Regions from separate parts of the Homo sapiens genome. Here region 2 is linked to region 1. The links come from fine-mapping of genetic effects on gene expression. A gene starts in region 1. The other region holds a variant in brackets. All regions are shown on one strand. Distances are from middle to middle.

Region 1 (2,910 bases):
AAGTTTGAGTACTACTCAGTCTCATTTACCTCAAAGAAAGCAGAACTATTAGAGGCTTGGAAGTGTGTCATAGTGGTTTCAGGCTGCCGAGAGAATTATCTAGAAGGGGCTTGAGGTGACCTCATCATCTGCGGGTGTTGCAGAGGCAGACCTGGCCCCTTCCGCAAGCTGCCTTTGATTTCCTTCATGCTGGGGACAGATGAGGTAGAGGCCATTTGTTTCTTTTTAAACTCTAGAATTACATCACAGGCCTGTATAATTTTCCTTAAAAAGTGTTTTTTGTTTTTTTCCAAAGCAACTATCCTCAAAAGAGCTGGGCATAGTTCTCCTAGGGGCAGCACCAGTGTTGAAGTGTGGGGGGAAACTGTTCTAAATCCTTCAAACAATGTCACCTTTGGAGCAGTAAAACTGCTCCCTTTTTCCCATGAGAGATGACAAGCATGCCCCAGCAATCATTTCTTGAAAGCGGATGCCCGGTGAGAGAAGGATTTGATTTGCTGAAGGGTCAGCCAAGTTAAGCCAGTTTCTTCCTCATTTCTTCCCTGGCTGGAGGTTTTGATGGTGGTGATGGTGGTTGAACTGAACCCACTTAGAAAACTGTCAAAGGTTTCTGGACTCTCAGGTGTGCCGTCTCACATTTGGTCTGCTACAGCAGGTGCTTCAAGGCTTTCTTCTGCCAAGATTTCTTTGTTTTATTTTATGATGTTTTCTTTATGTGTGTGTGTGTGTGTGTGTGTGTGTGTGTGTGTGTGTGTTTTACTTTTATTTCTAACAAACCTGTGGACCTTGGGGTTTAAGACTGAGTGAAGCTAGAAGGATTAGAGTCAAAAGAATTTTGCCATTTGGCCAATAGCATTCCCCACCTCCTGACATATCGATTTTTTTTCTAGATTCCCTTCCCCCTGCCACTCCCCTCCCCCCAACACACACACACTTTTCTCTTTCTCCTCTTTCTCTCCTTTCCTCCCTTGCTTCTCTCCCCTCCCTCTCAACACATTCAATGAGTGCCCTAAACGGTGACAAACTTGCATGTGCTTCCCTCATGACTAAACCCCTGGGCCTTCTGCCAATCCCCTGCAGATGGCCCCAAACTGCAGGCATCCCGTAAGGGGACCCCACGCTTGCAGCCCTGGTTGGAACGGTCAGGGTGGAGGAGGATGGTGGGGAGTGGTGGTGTCTTCGTCCTGGGAGAAGGCGAAGCAACTTCCAGGAGGAAACGGGCGTTTCCTTCCCACGCGCTCGAGCGAGCCCTGGGTCCTGGCCTCGGAACTCCACCCAGCCCCTCCCCACCCTCTGGGAAAAGCCAGTCGCCACACACAGGCACACGCAGGCCCCGGCGCCGCGCCCTAAGGAGAGCAGCACCCACAGCCAATTGCCATGGCAACCCCGGGGTTCGTTCCACTTCCCCACCCAGCCGATCTCCCCCCTCCTCCCTGCACTGCAGCCAACCGGCTTGTGCGCGTCCCAGGAGCGCGCTATAAAACCTGTGCTGGGCGTGATCGGCAAGCACCGGACCAGGGGGAAGGCGAGCAGTGCCAATCTACAGCGAAGAAAGTCTCGTTTGGTAAAAGCGAGAGGGGAAAGCCTGAGCATGCAGAGTGTGCAGAGCACGAGCTTTTGTCTCCGAAAGCAGTGCCTTTGCCTGACCTTCCTGCTTCTCCATCTCCTGGGACAGGTAAGTGGCACACCCTTAAGATGCCCCCAAGTTACTTTGCCCGCCTTGGTGGCCCCCATTTGGTCACCGGGCTCACTGCGTCTTCTGTCCCAGCTGAGTGGTTTCTCCTTGTCTCGCCTGCCTTCAGGTCGCTGCGACTCAGCGCTGCCCTCCCCAGTGCCCGGGCCGGTGCCCTGCGACGCCGCCGACCTGCGCCCCCGGGGTGCGCGCGGTGCTGGACGGCTGCTCATGCTGTCTGGTGTGTGCCCGCCAGCGTGGCGAGAGCTGCTCAGATCTGGAGCCATGCGACGAGAGCAGTGGCCTCTACTGTGATCGCAGCGCGGACCCCAGCAACCAGACTGGCATCTGCACGGGTAATCCTGCTCCCTCTGCTGTTTGACCTCTTCTCCTGCAGCTAAGTGAAGCTGCTTCCTCCCTTCTCTTTTGTATTCCCCTTCCCAGAGGGCGATAAGCAAATAATAATAATGCAATAAATGACATGTATAGAGCACTTACTGTGTGTCAGGCATGGTTTGGGGAGCACTTGGGGCTTTGGGGAGCGCCAGAGCCAGAAAGGAAACCTGCCCTGGGGGTGAAAGGCATTCCTCACTTGGCTTCCTAGACAAGAATCTAAGCAAAGGGGGAGCCACGCAGAGTTAAGGGCCAGTGAAGTCATTTCCTTCGGACACTTCTAGGGGGCCACTTGGGGCTGATGGAAGCTCGGGTTTACTCACACGCTCACAGTTTCCCAAACTGCAGTTGGGGAAAACCCAGCAGGTTTGTTTTCACACCTGTAATTGTCCCATTTGAACCAAAGCAGCTGCTAGTCTCCTGGGATAACTATGTAACCCTTTTCTGGCTGCAAGTAAAATAAAATGCAGGCAACTAGCCAATCCAGGCTTCTAAAACGTAATCAGTCGGGGATCAATTTTTCACATGATACAACATTGTAGTTGAAGATTGTCCCTTCCTTTCTGGACAGGAGGGCTTTTACTTTTTTCTCTAAGCTACTGATGATTTTATTATGCTTGAGTGTCAAGGAATCTTAATGCCCTTCCCAATTTGATCAGCTAACCTGTTGGAAAACATAAAGTACACTTTTTCTCTTTTTAAGTCTAAGCTGCTGGAGTAGGAAACTCTAAGGAGGTTCTCGCAAAATGACTGAACATTGGGAAAAATGGCCAGGGGACCTTGGGGACATCACTTCACAGTTGCACACCTCTTTCCTCATCCATAAAATGAGTGGCAAGACTAGA
Region 2 (2,910 bases), 32 kb after region 1:
GGCTGGGGTATAAAATTAACTATAAAATAAAACTGGAAAGGAGACACTTTGTATGAATTTAGGGTTTCATTTGAAATTGTAGTTATCCCAAAGAAGGTAAGAATGACCAAGTAACTATTAAAGCTCTAGTTATCAGAATTTTCCCATTGGATTGAAAAGATTTGGAATGAATGACAGATCAGTTTCTTCTCATACACTCCCACTATCAGGTAGCAAAAGGGAGAAAATAGCCATGAAAAGAGAAGAGAGGTATGGAAGTAAGGATTAGTGGTGCTGACTGGCTCTCAGTTTTATTTTAACTTTTAAATCATCCTGTCTTTCATCTAGAGAATAATGATGTTGGGAAAAATTTCCCCATTAGAATAACTTTACCCCAAATAAAGAACAATGAAACTAGCAAACCCTTAGTCAAAATTTGGAGGAACTCACAGCTTGAAGTATTATAAGATTACTATAAATTTCTCCCCAAAGCTATGATTTCTGTTTCACAGAAGAAATATGCCCAATGACTACATGATTAGAAGTTAGAATGGATATCAGTTCCACCCCTTTTTATTTTATAGGTAAGGACACTGAAAACCCCAACTCCACTCAACAGAAATATTTTTGATCCTGGATAGAGTTACTGGGAACATATTCCAATAAATCTTTATGAGTGTATTTTTAACATAAGCATAACTATAAGCTAATTCATTCATATAAATTAGCACTTCTGCCAGTTAATAGGGGAAGAAGAGGGACAGAAATATAAATACATACAATGATCTATTCCTCTCCTCACGAGTTCTATAAATAATATTTCATCATTGAAACAAAACTTATAATACCTCCTGATACTCAAGACAATGATATTTAAAAGTGGAAAAGGCAAAAGGAACCGAAATGGAAGTAAGGTTTCCATGCTTTACTTGAATTAATAAAGTATTGATACATTGACTGCAATAAGTCACATATATATATTATAATATCCAGAGCAACCACTAAGAAAATTATACAAAGATATGTACCAAAAAACACTATAAATAAATCAGTGGAGGCCAGGCACAGTGGCTCACAGCTGTAATTCCAGCACTTTGGGAGATTGAGGCGGGTGGATCACTTGAAGTCAGTTTGAGATCAGCCTGGCCAACACGGCAAAGCCCCATCTTTACTAAAAATACAAAAAAAAAAATTTAGCCGGACATGGTGATGCACACTTGTAGTCCCACCTACTCAGGAAGCTGAGGCAGGAGAATTGCTTGCACCTGGAGGTGGAGGTTGCAGTGAGCCGAGATGGTGCCACTGCACTCCAGCCTGGGTGATAGAGTGGGACTGTGTCACAAAAACAAACAAACAAATCAAAACAAAACAGAAAACCCTGACACTGGGTAATTCATAAAGAAAAGAGGTTTGGTTGGCTCATGGTTATGCAGACTCTACACTGACATCACTCAGCTTCTGAGGAGGCCTCAGGGAACTTTCAGTATAATGGCAGAAGGTGAGCAGGAAGCAGGCATGTCATGAGGCCAAAGAGGAACAAGTAGGGTTGGGTGGGGGAAATTGCCACATACTTTTAAATGACCAGATCTTGCAAGAACTAGCTCAGAACCACAAAAACAGCACCAAGCT[G/T]TGAGGGATCTACCCCCATGACCCAAACACCTCCTACCAGGGCCCAACTCCAGTACTGGGGATTACAATTTAACATGAGATTTGGGCAGGGACAAATACCCAAACTACATCACATTTCTTGCTTTCCAGTCACACTAAGTCTTCTTGAAAGAATAGTCTATGCTCCCTTCTCTACTTTGTTGTTGTATCTTACTTATGGCTGCAAGAAACAGACTACTCAACTAAAAATTTCCCCAAACAAATTGGATTCTATTGACTCGCATAATAAGCTAGGAGATACGTGGCCTCCAGCATTTGTTTAATGCACAATAATATCTTCAGATATGTAAGTTCATTCCTTTCTTTGATTCCCTCATCCTCAGATGGTGTCCTCATGTCTTTAAGAGCATCTCCAGGGATCACATCCTCACACAACTACTTAGACAGGAGGAACAGGAGGAACAGGAGACAAGGAAGAAGGCTCTTCTTAATCATTGTTCTCTTTCTTTTCTTTTCTCTTTTTTTTTCAGACAGAGTCTTGCTCTGCCACCAGGCGGGAGTGCAGTGGCATGATCTCAGCTCACTGCAACCTCTGCTTCCCGGGTTCAAGTGATTCCCCTGCCTCAGCCTCCCGAATAGCTGGGACTACAGGCACGCGACACCATGCCTGGCTAATTTTTTTGTATTTTAGTAAAGACAGGGTTTCACCATGTTGGCCAGGATGGTCTCCATCTCCTGACCTTGTGATCTGCCTGCCTTGGCCTACCAAAGTGCTGGGATTACAGGCGTGAGCCACCACACCCGGCCCCCGGCCCTCTTCCTTTTCATCTGTGAGAAAAAGTTCCCTAGCGGTCTTTCTGTAGTTCCCCTTGATCAGATTTAAATCGCATGGCCATCTCTACTAACAAGGAAAACCACAAAAGCATTTTAAGACTCTATCCCAGCAGGAGACTCTGCCTGTAGGGAAGAAGTGAAGAGAGTGGCCCTTGGTAAATTGGCCAAGAGAATTGGCTATGCTCATCATCCTTTTAGTTTAAAGAGACAGCAGTGTCTGGGGAGTGCAGTGGTGGAGCATGCGAACTTTAAGCCCCTTTTCTGTTTGAACCTCCTACAGAATTTTAGCATATTGACTACTTCCTCCTTCCCACAAATTTCTACTGGAACAAGTAATTTCACATCACCCTATCCTAATGTCCCAGTATCTCTGTGCCCCTTTCCATTCAGTCTTGCTTTTCCATCGTGTCTTAAATGTAAATAAGCCTTTTTTTCTTTCTTTCTTTCTTTTTTTTTTTTTTTTTCTAGACAGTCTCGCTCTGTCACCCG

Evidence for each region. PIP is the estimated chance that this variant, and not a neighbour inherited with it, causes the effect.
Region 2: its variant is fine-mapped to the expression of CCN3 in whole blood (INTERVAL, PIP 0.95).

Annotation. Positions count from the first base shown.
Region 1 is chr8:119,414,942-119,417,851 of GRCh38, forward strand. It overlaps CCN3 (cellular communication network factor 3), which reads left to right and starts at 1,505. Exons shown (of 5, transcript NM_002514.4): 1 at 1,505-1,675; 2 at 1,803-2,028. The coding sequence starts at 1,592. LOC124902009 (a long non-coding RNA gene) reads right to left here and starts at 1,368. Exons shown (of 2, transcript XR_007061077.1): 1 at 30-1,368.
Region 2 is chr8:119,447,400-119,450,309 of GRCh38, forward strand. No RefSeq gene overlaps it. Among named protein-coding and RNA genes, the nearest start is that of CCN3, 32 kb to the left of the region's middle. The variant G/T (reference allele first, on the strand shown) is at 1,609.